Regions from separate parts of the Homo sapiens genome. Here region 1 is linked to region 2. The links come from fine-mapping of genetic effects on gene expression. Tissue or cell type: thyroid. Region 2 holds a variant in brackets; the other region holds the start of a gene. All regions are shown on one strand. Distances are from middle to middle.

Region 1 (8,345 bases), 46 kb after region 2:
ATTTTTATCCTCAACTCCTCCAAAGTACTTCGCAATGAAAAAGTGAAACAGGGGCCAGGTGTGGTGGCTCACATCTGTAATCTCAGCACTTTTGGAGGCCCAGGTGGGCTGATAACCTGAGTTCAGGAGTTCAAGATCAGCCTGGCCAAAATGGCGAAACCCCATCTCTACTAAAAAAAAAAAAAAAAAAAAAAAATAGCCAGGCATTGGTGGCACGTGCCTGTAATCCCAGCCACTCAGGAGGCTGCGATGGGAGAGTTGCTTGAACCCTGGAGGCGGAGGTTACAGTGAGCCAAGATCGTGCCACTGCACTCCATCCTGGGTGACAGAGTGAGACTCTGTCTCAACAACAACAACAAAGGAAAAAGAAAGGAAACAAAATAGAACATGGAGTGAAAGCAACAGCTTACAAAAATACAAAGACACTAACCACTTTTAGGAACTCAAGTCTATATAATCCAACTGAAATGACTGAAACCCTGTGACATGAAAATGGAAAAGATTTGGGAATATTTTCAAAAGATAAGGGGTTTAGATCAAAATTTCAGAGACTGAATGTTCTAACATGATATAGAATCAATTTCAGGAATGAAACTTCATGAAATAAAATTACTTAAGTCCATAAGAACTATTCTATATAGGCAATCAACAGGCTATCTGATCTCACATAATGAATGCTTAGGTTTTGTTTTTCATTTTAAGGGTTTATTTGCTCAGTTTATTTCCAAATATAGTTTAGTAGTTTTACATTCTCAAGGAGTTATTTGGTAGCAGTGGAATACAGATTCCAATTTGCTACATCAGTTCTTTCCTTCACATAAGTATTGTATCTATACAGATTGTGAAAGAGACCAATAAAAACCCTCCTCCTACCTCATAGTTATAGCAGGAGTGTCCTGGCTCAGTGCTGGAATCTGACAGAACCTTCCCTCCAATTCCCACATTAAAGGAAAAATTCCAAGCCAAAAATGTTAAAATGATTCAAGTTATTAAGTTAATTTACATTTTATACTATTTTTAAATGACCAAATTTACCAAGAAACCAGAACTAAAAAAAATTATAATCCTCAGAAGGCAACCTTAGTAAGTAAAAACTAAACAGATATATTTGCATATATCAGATAAATGAACAGAACATTAGCGGGGCAGTTACCTACATCTAAAAAAAAGAGAATCAAAAACTAGCATGAACGTAAACTGGAAATTAATGTGTCTATTTAGATAGTTTCATTTTAACTGGAAACTCACAATAATCTATATGTATGTTTAAGAAAGATGGCTACATTTAAGATGTAGTAAAGATGAAATACAAAGACACAAACACTTGTTGCCAGTAAGTCCGTGTAATCAAATTATTCATAGTGAAATACATTGAAAGGCAAACAAGTCTTCTTTGGTTTGGCAGGTTTTCTTAACTCTTTGTGGAGCTACCTTGTACAACCATTCAAACAACATAAGATTTATTCATTTTGCATACAATGTACTTCTTTTTTCCCTAAGAAAGGTACACTTTCTACTACTCAAGCCAATTTTTTTCTAGTTTTCTTTATGTAAGTGTGAAAAAAGAACAGATGTTTTTCCAAAATTATTTAAGCTTGGAAGGCATTCTATCATTTTCCTCAATAAAATACTTCAGAGTCACCCAAAGCATCATGGCAATACCTTAAGAGCTGAGTCCTTTAAAATACAAGTTATTAGTAAGAAATCAGTATCAGGACACACAGTGTTGTTTGATAGATAAAATGTTATTATAATGATAGATAAAATGTTATTATAATGGGATGCTGTAAATTATTTGCCACACCAGCTTTATTTTCCACTCTGGACCTTTTTCGTTTGTTTGTTTTTCAATCTAGATATTCTACAAGTCATGTACAAAGAGGCTTTTAAACTTATCACATTGTATAGCTCATTCCCTACTGCCTAGAATCTTGTAAATCTCTGATGGAATGTGTAACTGGAGTTATCAGCTGGCTTCAACATGCTTCACTATGAAACCTATTAAAGTGGTCTTTTTGTAAAAGCAGAGTTTGCTCTGTGTCACTCAAAAGTCCTGCGGATACAAAAATGAGATCCTATGAAATGTTTAAAGATGCAGAGAGCTGTCTTTGAGTTATTTTTTCATTATGCAAAACTTGGCCCAGGAGAGATGGTCATGTACCTCGTTAGCTAAAACAGTCAGGCATGTCAGGATTGCAAATTAATTTACCAGAGAAAGTTGAAGTTTATTCAGATCACTCAGGTTTCTAAGGCAGATCTAAGTCTGCTGAACTATTAGGGCAATTTGGTAAGGTCAGAATCTCAGAAATGTTTATCCTTATTGTCTCTTTCCAACTCCCTCGCAGAATACAAACTCCTCCCTAAACTAAGCCTGCATGAACAGCAAATGTTCCATGGGAATCAACATGTATAGGTATAACTCTAAGTTTTCAAAAGTAGTAATTGGTACATGCTGTGATTCTCCCCAAAAAACATCCAATAAATACAAATAGAGATAATCAAATATTTACTTTCTCCTTATATTAACTTGTTGTATTTATGAAGTGAAGGGTTTCGATGGACCTTGCATTATTACGTAACACGTGCCATCCAGCCAATGTGATTTCGTTAGTAGTAGAGTAAGCAGCAATATCCTTGGTTTTATCAATTACGTTATTATCTATTAATTTAAAATGCCGTTCTTTTGGGTGCTCTCCCACATTCTGTTAACCTCATGTTCCTGTCGCTTTACTCTCCATATGAACTCTGAGTTGAGTGTTGTATAACAAGTTTCATTAAATTTTTCCCATCCAAGTTATGAAGCCCACTAACATCAGAATTGCACAGTTCCCTAAAAGGCTAGAACAATGCCAGAGTGGTTGCATTAGAAGCCAAGAGTAAGGCAAACAATGGGTCCACGTTTTAAATAAGATAAGTGTGCTTATCTGTATCTGACCCTGGAAACAAGCAACCACCTCTTGGGAGATGGAGATGCTCCATTAGTAACATTATGCACGTTTCTTAAGTAAAATAAGCAATCTTCTCCCTCATATGTTATGAAAAAATATTTCTTCAAAATCAACAGACTAGTCTTCCATTTATGGATTGTAAATGTCATCCAATTCAGGAAATCAAAAATTCTTCCTTTTTCTATGCCTATTTGCTTATGTTTCACACTTTGATGATGACAAGAACGTCAGGTTTGAAGGGTACCAGCGTGAAGCGCCAGCAGGTAGAGAAATCCGGGAGAGCCACAAAAGCATAGAAAGTATGGGTGATCAGACGCATTTCATTTCAAGTCTGATGAGCCTGCATTTAGGATTTTCCAGCTGGGCTGGTTTGCCAGGGCTTTTGGGAGACGGGGGCTTTTTATTTCTTCTCTCACACTCACACACACGGTCGGACACACACCTGGGACGTGTTCAAACTCTACGTACACTAGGTGGCTTATACGAATGTATATGTATATTTAAAAATAATACCTTGACATCTGACAAAGACACGAAGGCAACGTATGTGCAGTGAGTCTGGCTCTGAGAAACGTGCACAGCCCCGCAAGAAGTGCCCGTTAAAATGAAACATTTCTGAGGATGAGGACAGACATGGCAAGCGGGAGGGGCGGGGGCCGACAGACAATACAGAGACCCGCAGCTCCCCATCGCCAGGGCGCCACATGGACCCGGCGCGTCACCCCTGCTTACTGTGGGCTCTTGGGGTAGAAGGGCAGGGTCACATGGCTGAGATCCTGGATGTCGAAGGCGGTGGGCTCGGCGGAGATCGCCTGCCGCTTGGTGCGCGGCTCGCCCTGCAAGGTGCTCGCGCTCTGCTTCTGCGCCTGCTGGGTGGCTGGTCGGATCACCGAGCGGTACTTGTCCAGCTCGTTCTGCAGCTTCTGGATCAGTTCGTCCTTCTGATCCAACTCCAGCTCCAGCTCGTCGATGAGAGCATCCCGCTGCCTCAGCTCCTCGATCTTCTCCTGGAGCGCGTACTGTAAATCCCGCAAGGTGCCCATGCTCCTCCGGGCTGCCGGGGGCTCCTTCCTGCCGCTGCTCCGCGTCTTGAGGCTTCCTCCCCTCTCCGATCAACTTTCCCCAAAGTCGCCGCTGCCTCCCGAGTGCCAAAGCTTCCTACTTGAGACCAAAGCCAGCCCTGGCTTCTGAGCATGCCCAGTCCGCCGGCTCCAGCCACCCAGAGTTTCAGTGCAGATTCCACTTCTCTGGGCTGGCTGTGAGGCTCAGAGCGGGGAGAGCAAACCAGCAGGTCCAACCCGGGATTAAACCTGAGACGCGGTGGGCGCCGCGGCGCGGGGGAGAAGAGTCGGAGGCGCGGTGGCGGGGGAGCGGGAGGAGGGGACGTGAATGGGGGCTCCGAGGCAGCGGCTGGGCTCTCAGAGTCCCTCGCGCCGGGCGCCCAAGGAAGCTTGCGGGGCGTGCGGGGAGCCTGATAAGCCTCCGAGGCGCGCCGGGGGTGTGCGGGTGGAGCGAGGCGGGAGCGCTACTTCGGGGGTGGGGAGGTGGGAGGGAGGGGACAGGGAGGACCCCGGGCAAACTCGGGAGGCCTCAGCTGACTCCAGAGCAGACCAGCCTGGAGAATGTTGAGCTACGATCCTAGCGACGTACGAGGCATAGGGGACTCTGCATCATCAAAGCTCTGAGTTCTGGAGGTATTTTGACGGCCGGCCTCACTAAGGAAAGCTCCCGAGCGGTGTGGCCGAGCTGTCGCTTCTCCCACGCCACCTTTCCCACCCAGAGCGCCTCACACAGGTGGCTAACGCTTGCGAAGAAACTTGCCTCTCAGGAGATGCGAGCGAGTCGGCGCCCGCGAGGAATTCCCCCTTTCAGCCTACTACCTTTGGGAAAGGGTTGTGGGGTAGGGGGTGGGGTTTCCGATTTTAGCACCCGAGGCGTTGCTACTCTTCGCCTGCTCCAGATAGTTACTTTCCTTTCTGCCCCTTCCAAACTCTCATCGGGGAACTGTTTTAGGGCAAAGGCCAAAAACGGATTTGGGCCCTAGCAGGTCACTCAGCTTCCCCATGAGCCCTCCGCCTTGAGCTGGTGCCTGGGAATAGTTCTCGGATGGGCCTTGCTTCTTCCATTTGCTGAATTTGGCGGGGAGAGGGTGGGGGTTAAAAATCATTCCCGAGCTCCAAAAATTTCATCTTGAAACTGAATCATACCTTTAAAAATATTACTTTCCTCACAACCAAGCTGTTAGGAATGTATCTTTCCACTTGAATGGCCAGGAAGACATCCTGACACAAACTTTGAAGAAGAGGGAAAATCGTGAAGGAGCGAGGGAGACCACGCAGGCTGCAGTGAATTGTACACTATACTGCAGTCACCCCCACCTCTACCCACTCCCACCCTCATCCCTGCCCACTCAATATTCCCCAAAATGATCACAATTAGGTAACTTCCTTTCTATCCAAGTGTTACACTCCCATCATGGGAACACATGTTTAGAATCCCCAAATATCTGCCTAATACGTACCTAAATCCCTAATATTTGCTTAAGACATTACGAACTCATCCAATTTTATAGCATCTTTATTGGCAGATTTTTGATTACTATTCTTGGGCACTCAATATTATAATCCTCAATGCTCTATTTGGTTATTCCTTAACACTAAAACAAAGTGGACAGAAAATAAAATTGAATTGCAATGCAATTCTAAACTTAGCAAAGAATAGTATCAAAATAACTTGCACACTGTTGCTTTTGAATACACAACTTTTTGTATTTAAGCTAGAGACAGAGGAAGGGAGGAAAGGAGGGAGGGAGGTCAAGGTATCTTAACAAGCTTGTTCATTTAAAGTGTCCTTGTTTTTAATTAGAGGACTAAATGACAAAATATATAGTCCTAAATATTCTTTTATGTAGATTATGATCTAGTAATTCTCTTAATGCAGATTACACAAGACACTTCATTTTTCTGCTTTCCAACACAGACTTTCAGAAGTGCATTTATTTCTAAATGTGATATATAAAATGGATCATTCTCAAAACATTTTCTTTTGCAATGAAGAAATGAGCAACTTACAAATATTGAAAATAATAATAGCTCTGAATTACTGTTGTTTTAATTAAAAGTAAACCAAGCAGAAGTACTGTGACTTTGTATAACTCACTGTATTCTAAAAAAGCTTCCATGAAAATTTCCTTCTTCTGGGCAAAAGGCCAAATTCTTATTTAACCTGTGGGAATTCTTTATTTCCATGGGAAAATGTTGAATACAAAATGACTTTTTCCTATAGATCTATTATTGGGGTTCATGAAGCCATGAGTTTATGTCTAAAAATATACCAGATACAATGTATAGAGGACATAATTAGACAACTGCTAAGCTGGGTTCAGAATTCCAGGATTTTCTCTTTGTTTTTTTTTTGTTTGTTTGTGTGTTTGTTTTTGAGACGGAGTTTTGCTCTGGTCACCCAGGCTGAAGTGCAGTGGCGCAATCTCAGCTCCCTGCAACCTCCGCCTCCTGGATTCAAGTGATTCTCCTGCCTCAGCCTCCGGAGTAGCTGGGACTACAGGCACCCGCCACCACGCCGGCTAGTTTTTGTATTTTTAGTAGAGACGGGGTTCACCATGTTGGCCAGGATGTTCTCGATCTCTTGATCTCGTGATCTGCCCGCCTTGGCCTCCAAAAATGCTGGGATTATAGGCATTAGCCACTGTGCCCAGCCATCTCGTTCATTTTTAAAGTGAAAACAAATATTTTAAATACGTTTTTCATTGATGTTTTAGAGTTTATTTAGGGTTTAAATGGGGTTACTTAATGTTTTTGAGCAGCACAAAGAGAGAAGGTTCTTCCTCATTTGTAGAAAGTCTGTCTACATGTACAAAGGAAAATAAAAACTAAAACACTTTCCCCAAAAATAAAAAAACCAAAAATATTTAGGCATTTTGGAAAAAAGTGAGTTTTTTTACACTAAATTATGTAAATACTTATCAGTATTTAAGCTGGCATATCTAAATGCAACTATAGGATGTATACACATTACATTTTCATTTTAAATTTACATCTCATGATATAAAATCTGTTCCAGGATGAATCTGATATTGAGAGTCAGGAATCTGTTATAACAAACACAAATAGAGTAAAAAGCTGAAAAGACATGACTTTTACAATTGACTTTAAAAGGTGTTCAAGGAATAGAATATATTTAGTTATCTCAGGCTGTGTTATTTTTTTAAATTGACTTCCCCTTAAATGCTTTATAATTTCATATGCAAAATCCAGGATTCTAGCCTTTTCTCTTTCATTTTTAAAGTAAAAATAAATATTTTAAGTATGTTTTTCAATGATGCTTTTGACCAGCTGTTTAGATCTTGAGCGACCAGGTTTCCATCTCAACCTTTTGAGTGTTTCCAATATTTTCTTAAACATCTTCTGCGTTGTACTTAGTAAATGCTGGAAATAAACCCTATGTGAAAAATCAAAGTCCTGCAATTACGTCTTAACAGACAAATTATCTTTACTAAGTGTCATGTAGTAAACTTAATTGGCTAAATTACAAGATCAAAGATCAGGCACAAGTCTACTTTCTGCTAATTAGGAAGTGTCTACCTCAGATTCCTTCAGGGATAGAGTAGAGGAGAATGGCTTGATCTGAGCCCTGCCCCACTGCCTATCTGAGATGAAGCTTTGACATTAGATGCTAACAGTTAGAACAATGCAATTTTGAAGGAACTGACTTCATACTCTAGAATTCCAGAAACAACTCACAACCTGTTTTTCAGCAGTCTTCCTTTTTCATAACTTTAATAGAAGCAAAGTTCTACTGGTAGCCAGACCAAACTGTGGCCTGTTGAACTCCAACATGCTCTTTAGTCTTGCACCCAATCCTCATAATTGAGAATAAAAACTGACATGCCTTCCTTAATGGATTCTCAGAATCATTTAATGAGCTATTCCAATAAAGTAGCTTTATTATAATACTGGCTATTCAAAAATAAATCTGTAGAATTTGTCATCCTTCACTAAAAACATAATTAGCCCAAAAGAACTGTGCTAATTTTATCCACTTATCCATTCCACTGACACTGTATTTCCTGGAAGAATCTTAAGTTTTGAAATTTTCTTCTGTCATTTCATGTGTATATCTTGAATGGGAAAAAATAAACAAACAAATATATAGCTGAGCCTTTCAGGAGACAGAAGCTTCCTCTGGCAGAAGATTGCTAAAAGTAACAAGTCCTCCTAGGAATCTAGATTTTAAAGCTATTACTGGCAGACATGACGGTCTGTTCTAAGTTGCTAATCATAATCAAGATCACAAAAAATTAACTAACTTCCTTGACTTCTTAATGCATGATAGGTATTGTTCATACAACCCTATAAGTTCAATATTATTAATATTCTA
Region 2 (8,345 bases):
AAAGTAGATTGACCCCCAGATCATATCTTCTCTGAGGAATGCGGATGAAAAGAGCATGATAGTGTTTGGATCTCTGTCCCCATCCAATCTCATGTTGAATTCTAATCTCCAGTATTGGAGGTGGGGCCCGAAAGGAGGTGATTGGATCATGGAGGTGGATTTCTCATGAATGCTGTAGCACCATTCTCTTGGTGCTGTCCTCACAATAGCGAGTGATTTTTTCTGAGGTCTGGCCCGTTAAAAGTACATGACACCTCCCTCCCTTCACTCTCTCGCGCCTGCTTTCACCACGTGAAGTGCCTGCCTCCACTTCACCTTCTGCTATGATTGTAAGCTTCCTGAGGCCTCCCCAGAAGCATATGCCACCATGTTTTCTGTACAGCCTGCAGAACCTTGGCCACTTAAACTTCTTTTCTCTATAAATTACCCAGTCTCAGAGCCTCCAGTAATTTTTTTTTTTTTTTTGAGATGGAGTCTCGATCTGTTGCCCAGGATAGAGTGCAGTGGCACATGGCATGATCTCAGCTCACCGCAACCTCCACCTCCCGGGTGGAAGTGATTCTCCTGCCTCAGCCACCCGAGTAGCTGGGATTACAGGAACCCACCATCACGCCTGGCTAATTTTTGTATTTTTAGTAGAGATGGTGTTTCACCATGTTGGCCAGGCTGGTTTCGAACTCCTGACCTCAGGTGATCTATTTGCCTCGGCCTCTCAAAGTGCTGGGATTACAGGCGTGAGCCACCAGGCCCGGGCTCAGGTATTTATTTATAGCAACGCAAGAAAGGCCTAATACGGAGCATGCAAGAAGTTTCTGTTCTTCATTATAAGCCTTTTTTGGGCTGATTTTTTAAACCATATATATGGATAACAGTAATAAAATTTATTTTTAAAGAACGAGGTTAATTAAGACTGTTGTAAAATGTTAGGATTTTTATGCAATCATCTGACTTCAGTCATTGATAGAACTAGTTTTTGGAAGTGTCAATGCCCATCAGGTAAAAATGTAAGTGAACAAGTTTGGTGTATTATTCATTGCAGAGGGAGAATGCATACCACAGGGAACCACCTGTGAGGTAGCTCAGTACAACAGTGTCAGAAGAACCTATTATAGAATTGGGGCTTTTGTTGAATAATTTTGAGGAAGGTTCTAAGGAAGCAGAAGTTTGTCCTACATTGTGTGTTGTCAGAAAGCAGGGGAAATGTTATGATTAGATATCTCAATAAAACGTATAGATAGGGCAGGCTATAGGAAGCCTAAAATTGAACCTAGTAAGGGAGCATTTACTGAGACAGGAAGATACCTGGTTTTAGTGAGAGAGACAGATCTGGTCTATTTTGTAGTATGCACAGTGACACGATCTGAAGTAGGTGGTTTATGACATTATTGATGCTCAACGGGAGAACAACATGGCGTAGTTGCCAGTGTCAAATCAGTTTGTGATAACCTGAGTTCCAGCTATGAGCATCAGATCAGTTGCTGGATGTCACTGGCTGCTTTTTTCTTTCTTAGAAGAAAACCAAGAAGGATATGTCTAGCAATAACTATTGATAGTTTGTGATTTTGATTTACATGAATTGGGTTTTTATATATGAGTTTTTCCTTGGGAAATTACAGTTTCCTTAGTAATCAGAGACCAAATCTTAATCACACGTATATACCCACAAGAGGCAACCCAGATGGGTTAGGTTTTTATTCTTCCCACAGAGGTTAAGACACAGGGCTAACATCACTTAGCCATTATCTGGAAAAGTTAGGACTAGAAATGGTGTTTGAACAAAAGCCTCTTGGTGCTGTGTTGATATTGTGTCCATGTGGCATCCCAGTAAGACGGATGTCTCACTACTGTTTGGGAGAAGGGCATGATGCATTATTGTGATTTGTTCCACCATATGCCTTTCATATGGGTTTTGCCCTTTGCTACACATGTGGGATGGTAGAGCTCTAAGGATTTAGTTCCATTGCTTTAGACCAAAGGGACTTCCGAAGAAGGCTAAAGCCTGAACTGCCAAATGCCATCCTCATTTAATAGAGAGCTGCTAGTTTGTTCCTGGACTAAGGCAACAGATGTTCCTAAGGTTTCTGCCAAAATGTTTAGCAGCGACATGATGCTAGGGGTACAGCAGAAGGTACGACAGATGTACGTACAATACAAGAAGCAGAGGGCTGGCAATGACAAGGGCCTGCTCTTGAGGTAAGTGCCAACAATCACCACAACAGAGAACATTAAATGCAATAAGTGTAGCAGTGTTCCTTAATACTATGCCATTAGGACCATATTTATCTCACTTGTTAACTGTACCATGCAGAAAATTAATGAAATATATTACTGTGCAAGACCATTCACGAATCCAACGAACAGTTAGTGGGTGCCCATTGTGAATGATGTACTGATGGGTGATTATGACATTTTCAAATAGATATGCATATTCTCAAGGAGTTTTGACACCAATCTTGGTGCCACATTATCTGTGTTCTTACGGTTGTCACTTACTAGCTGGGTGGCCTTGGAAAAAATCTTTAAAATTTTAAATCTTCAATTATTTATAAAAATTAGGGAAAAGTACCTTCTGCAGAGAGTTGTTATGAGGATTCAGTGAGATATGACATAAAAAGTTCTCATCTCTGAGTGCAGTACTTCATGAATGTTATCTATTATTATTTGTAATGAAGTTCTTCCCTCCTGTATTTATTTAATTAGTGATAGTTTGAATGTGTCCCGAACAATGTAGAATGCAGAGAGAGAAAAACTCATGAGCCAAAAATTATGCTTAAATGTATCAAAAAATAATATAATAATTTCCTCCATCAAAGACATGTTTCTACTATTAAACAAAAACTCTGCATGCCTGCAGAAAGCAAATAGTGGCTCCTCAAAGATGTCCACTTTCGGATTCTCAGAATTTGGATATATATTACCTTATATGGAAAAAGGGGCCTACAGATGTAATGAAGAGTATGAACATTGAGCTCGGAAGATTGCTCTGGGTTATCCAAGTGGGTTCAATTAATCACCACGATACTTGTAAGTGAGGGAGACAGGAGAGATGATCTCAGTAATGCAATATGAGAAAGACTGGACCTAGACTTGCATTGCTGGCTTTGAAGATGGGATGGGGCCAAGAGCTGAGAATGTGGGAAGTTTCTAAAAGATGCAAAAGACAAGGAACAGATTCTTTGCTAGAGCTTCCAAAAAGGAACAACAGCCCCACTGACATCTTAATTGTAGCCTAGTGAGACCCTCATTAGACTTCTAACCTACAAGACTATACAATAAAAATGTGTGAATTTTTATTCCTACCGTTGCTGTAACAATATCACTTAAGTCACTAAGTTAGTGGTATTGTTACAGCAACAATAGGAAATTAATACAATGTCTCTTTGCTTTATTAAATTAAATTGGCAAAATGACTAAGAGACACTTAATACATGTGTAGTGTATATGCTAACAGAAAAGAACGATAGCTGTTTAATGAAGATTCCACTTGGTCTATTACTTAACTAAGTCAAGTATACCAAGTCCATTATAGAAACTTAAAACCTAGGATGTCATTTCTGGATGGTCATTGCAAACTCCTCTACATGTGCTTGAGAAATTCCTTGAATTTGACAGAGCTGAACTTTTCAGCTTTGTTCAAAAACAGGGGCCAGAAAATGTAGAAGGAAAGAAATTTGAAAATGTTGTGAAGGAAAGACAGAGAGAGAAAATTGTATACTAGGCCTAAAAAAATAGTGATATATGTGAAGATTGACTTCAAGACCTTAAATATCCCTTTGTACACCTTTTTCCTCTTCACAGGGGGCCTTGTAGTTTGTTGTGATTTGGGCAATACCAGAAAAATCGGAATCAACAACCTCAACAACTTTGCCCTCCCTAATATTCATATAGTTAACCATTATTTAGCTTAAGGTAATTTTCTCCATTAAAATTGTAATCTTAGAAGCAGTGAGCACACTTTGTTATTTATAATGGGATTTTACTAAGCTTCTAAATTCTAGACAGCAAGTTCCTCCACCCTGTTCCACAACTATCTTTCAAAAAATAATAAAATGCTCCAAACTTTTTCTTAAAAGTTAAAAAAAAATTCTCAATAAGCCTTACAAACATTATAAATGCAAAAGGGAAATTTGAAAGTAAGGCCTTATTGGCATTGATATATGGAGAACCCACTGAAGCTTAGGACCTGTGATCATTTGTAAACTTTCATGTCCAAGCTCATGATCACTGTTTCTTCTCACTTAAGGAGAGATTAGTTTTCTGTTTTCAAGTAGACTTACTTCTCCATTGATAAGCATAAATAATAATTTTTCTAGAACATTGACTAAAAAATTAATTATTTTTTATACGAATCCAAAGTCTTATTTTAAAATTCCAAAACCTCTGAACTTAATTCTAAGTGTCATTTTATTTTAAAGTATATCAACATGATCATACTGTAAAATGGAAAGATTTGTCTTGTGGTAAAGTTAAAATTGTCATTATATTTTTAGACCATGAATTTTAACAGTCTCTAGAGAGTTAGTGTTGGAATTATGTCCAAAATCAAAACAGGAAATGAACAGGGTCATTAAATTAGAGTAGAAAGTGGTTTTATATATTTTTGTTTTGCCAAAAATTTCTCTATCAAAATATGATCTTTCCTAGATTAAGGCATGATTCTTTTTTCTTGAGAAGCATATTTAACTGTACACATCTGTACCATGAGTCTAAAATGTGTATTTTTGATATTCCAGATTTCTCTTCAAAATTTAATGTATTCTAGATAATCAGGAAAATTTCTCTAATTATGCAAATAATTAAGATTTATAAAAATGTGTTAATATTTTCAGGAAAAAGTATAAGGCAGTGAAAATCACAAAGATCAATAACTCAAAGACTGTGAACATTTCCTTTTATTTTCCATTGCTCCCTGAAAATTTAATTTAGTTTACTTTACCTAAGACATAA[T/C]GTGGTGCAACTGAACCATACTAACTGAATAGGGACACCATAGCCTATATGTTACAAATAATATGAATTTAGCAAGTGAACATTCGGAAGCCTACATTTTCAAACTACTAAGACAGTAAATTTATTGCGTTTTGGAGGTAGTGCAAGAAATGAAGAATTATTCTAAGGACAACTATTCATTGCCTAAAGCAACCTATATTCAGGTCCAAGATATGGCTTAGGATTTCATGATTTCCTTTTTATTTTTTCTAAAATGTAACAGTAACATATCAGTTACTAAGAGACCAGGTTCCAAAATAATTTGAAGCTTAACATTCAGAACCAATATGCTGTTGCTTTTCCCTTCAATTAACCTAGCTTGTTCCAGCAAGAATTCTTTAACTCCTTAGCAAGCTAAACCATAAATAGGCACAACAGCTATAGTCATTTACTGTAAATTAAATAGAATATTCTGCAGAGACGAATAGAACAACAGTAGGTTGCAGAGGGAAGACGTAGGAATCAGAACTGTGTTCTAATTGAGATACTGTCTTCAGGGAAGTTTCTTTACTTTCCTGAAACTTGAAGTACTCATTCGAAAAACTGATGCTAATAAGAATACCTATCTCATGGTGTTAGTGTAGAAATTATCGAGAAAATTCATGGAAAACATTTAGTACAGTATTTGGCACAGATAAAAGTACTATACGAAAGCTTTCTGTAATGATAATAAACAGAGTTATTATCATTTTTAATGGTTTCTTAAGAATTTAAGCTAATTTAGAAACTCACTGAATTCAAACATTACTTTTAGAACCATTTTAACTGTCTTTTTTAAAGAGCAGATATTAATTTACTTTCTATAATTAAAATGGCATGGCACTATATTGATCTGAGGATTCCTTTTCTAAAATTTACCCTTAAAAGTAATCTGCTTTTGCACAGGAAGTTATTTTTTGTTTTATTTTTTATTTTTTTTCAAAATCCCATTATATCCACTTCTCTTTGCTCCATCAACTTTTAAATGGCCTTTGGCCAAATGCCATAAAACACTGACCTAAAGATTGCTGCTCTGCTCTTAACTGTGTCCTGAAATAGTTTTAATGGAACTTAGAACCTCAAAGACTCTCAGGGTTAGGAAGGATCTCCAATGCCATGTAATTCAACTTCCCTTCCCCTCATCCAACATCTATGACATCTGCAAGTCATCACTGAGATTTTAGTGAAAACCCCCTAGTGATAAAGACATCACTGCCTCAAGAGACAGCTAACTTTCAGACAGCTGCCACAAAAGTTAGAGCAGTTGTTAAGAAGCCATGGAATATCTCCCTAGAAAGAAGCAGATGTTCTTGACTCATTTTTAAACATAGAACTGCAATCATGTTTAAGAAAACAACTTAAAAGCTCAGCCACATCCCATCTTTACTCCGTTGAGAGCTGTTACATAATGTATTTTATTTAAGGAATCAATAAGGTATGTTATATGAGCATAGCTTTCTTACAAAGCTATCAAAAATTGTTTCTTCTGTAGTAAAGCAATGCCTCCATTAGAACTCTGTCTTGTCTCCTTTATCTATGAAATGGAAGAAAGAATGCTATCCACTTCCTAATTGTTGTGGAAATTACATAAGATTACCCATATCAAACACACACAGTACCCACACAGTACTAGGGACATAGTAAGCATTCAACAAACCGTGGTAAGCACCATAAATAATGCCCATGAAGTGCGTAGCAACATGCTTGGCTCATCGTGTACATTCCAAATATGTGATTATTACTCATTAGGCCATTTGCTTCATCAGCCAAGACCTCAATTATTGCCTGTGAAAAAATACAGCTTGACAAGTGCTACCACATGAGGAGCAAGATAACTGGTTAAAATGTTGATAGAATATAACAAGAATGTAACACCATTATGGACTTTCCCAATAAGGAGAATTTCACCATACTGTGCACAAAGAAGCATTATGGGACCCATGGCAAAAGCAGACCTATGATTGCTTTGTACCAGAGTGAAAGACCATGCTGTGCTGTGTTTAAGAGTCCAGGTTCTCTATAATTAGGATACAGGGTAACTGAAATTGGGGAATACCCATGAAGCATTTCCATGTTCATTACAATACAGAAATATTACTTCCTCAAAATTGGCTCCACAATAAGAGAGAGCAGAACAAATGGTCATGTACAGGTTAACTAAAAATGTCACATTTCAAGTACGTTTCTCCATTATCTCTCAGATCTACCCATTCCCTCTTATGATTCCACAGCCTCCAACAACCCTGTTACCCCATGCCTTCAACAGCCACTTATCTGATTCTCCAGGCTCCCACCTCTACTCATCCTGCACAGAGATGCCAAAGGGTGGAACAATCTTCCTCTGATAGCAATGCCATCTTCTTGCTCAGGAATTCCCCCGCTGTTCAATATTGCTCATGGTATCAGATCTTACCATCTTGATCCAGCCTTCCACCCTCTCTCCCATCATCTCCCACTGGTCTATTAACTACATCTTGAACTCAGCCCCCTCCAGGGATTTCAGAGGAAATGCTTCCTACCATCATCCCACCAGTTCCTGCCTTTCCTCCTCCAAATCTAGCTCAGAATTCAATTCCTGTAAGAATTCCTGCAGACACCTTTTACTGTTCACTTCCTCAACTTCAGCTTTTCTGTATTCTGTTTGCATCATATTAACATTCACCTCCTTGCATGTTGATTTCAAATGGCTTTAATCCCCATGATACATGAATACTGTTCATCCCAAATTTACTGGAATGTCCTTCCAGGATTAGTCCATGTCCTTCATTTCATACAGAAGCCCAATAAGCCGTGTCTTCAGGGACTGAAGAGTTCTAGTTCTTCGAAGGGATTATAATTACATTCTACTCATTTTGAGTGAGGTGCAAATCATTTCAGTGCCCTCTGTTTTGTTTCTCTTCTTCAAGAGGCAGGAAATGCATGGTTGAAATAATTCAGAGGGGCAGAGTGCTTATATGTTCCGCCAGTCTACCGTGGATAATGCCACATTATTGATGCAGCATTTTACCATTCACAAACTGACCTCACATTTGTTATTTAATTTGAGCCTCAAGTAAATTAAGCAAATTACTCACCTTTCTCAATTAGTTACCGACTGGCAGAGTTGAGAAAAAACTCCAAATCTGTTGAGTGAAAGCCCAGTACTTTTCCACCACCACACCAGAACTGCCTCCCTACAGTGAAGCTCTCTCCTTCGCCCAGCCTATACATGTACTCGGTCTCCTCTACAAGAACAACATTGTCTTGACTTTCCATTGCTACCCTTTGCCCCTGATTTCTTCTCTATGTTTGCACTATGACAATTCTTAAAAAGGAATTTTGGTACTACTTCTTTATCATTCCTTTTTTTTTTTTTTCGAGATGGAGTCTCACTCTGTCAT

Direction of the effects. Alleles are on the strand shown, and positions count from the first base shown. SD is a standard deviation of normalised expression in the study named.
In carriers of allele C in region 2, the expression in thyroid of the gene that starts at base 4,095 in region 1 tends to be lower than with T alone (small effect, 0.17 SD a copy in GTEx).

Evidence for each region.
Region 1: it holds the start of PRKG1, and the variant in region 2 is fine-mapped to the expression of PRKG1 in thyroid (GTEx, PIP 0.97).

Annotation. Positions count from the first base shown.
Region 1 is chr10:51,070,237-51,078,581 of GRCh38, reverse strand. It overlaps PRKG1 (protein kinase cGMP-dependent 1), which reads right to left and starts at 4,095. Exons shown (of 18, transcript NM_006258.4): 1 at 3,681-4,095. The coding sequence starts at 3,991.
Region 2 is chr10:51,115,813-51,124,157 of GRCh38, reverse strand. All of the region lies in intron 1 of PRKG1 (protein kinase cGMP-dependent 1), which reads right to left. Among named protein-coding and RNA genes, the nearest start is that of PRKG1, 45 kb to the right of the region's middle. The variant T/C (reference allele first, on the strand shown) is at 4,948.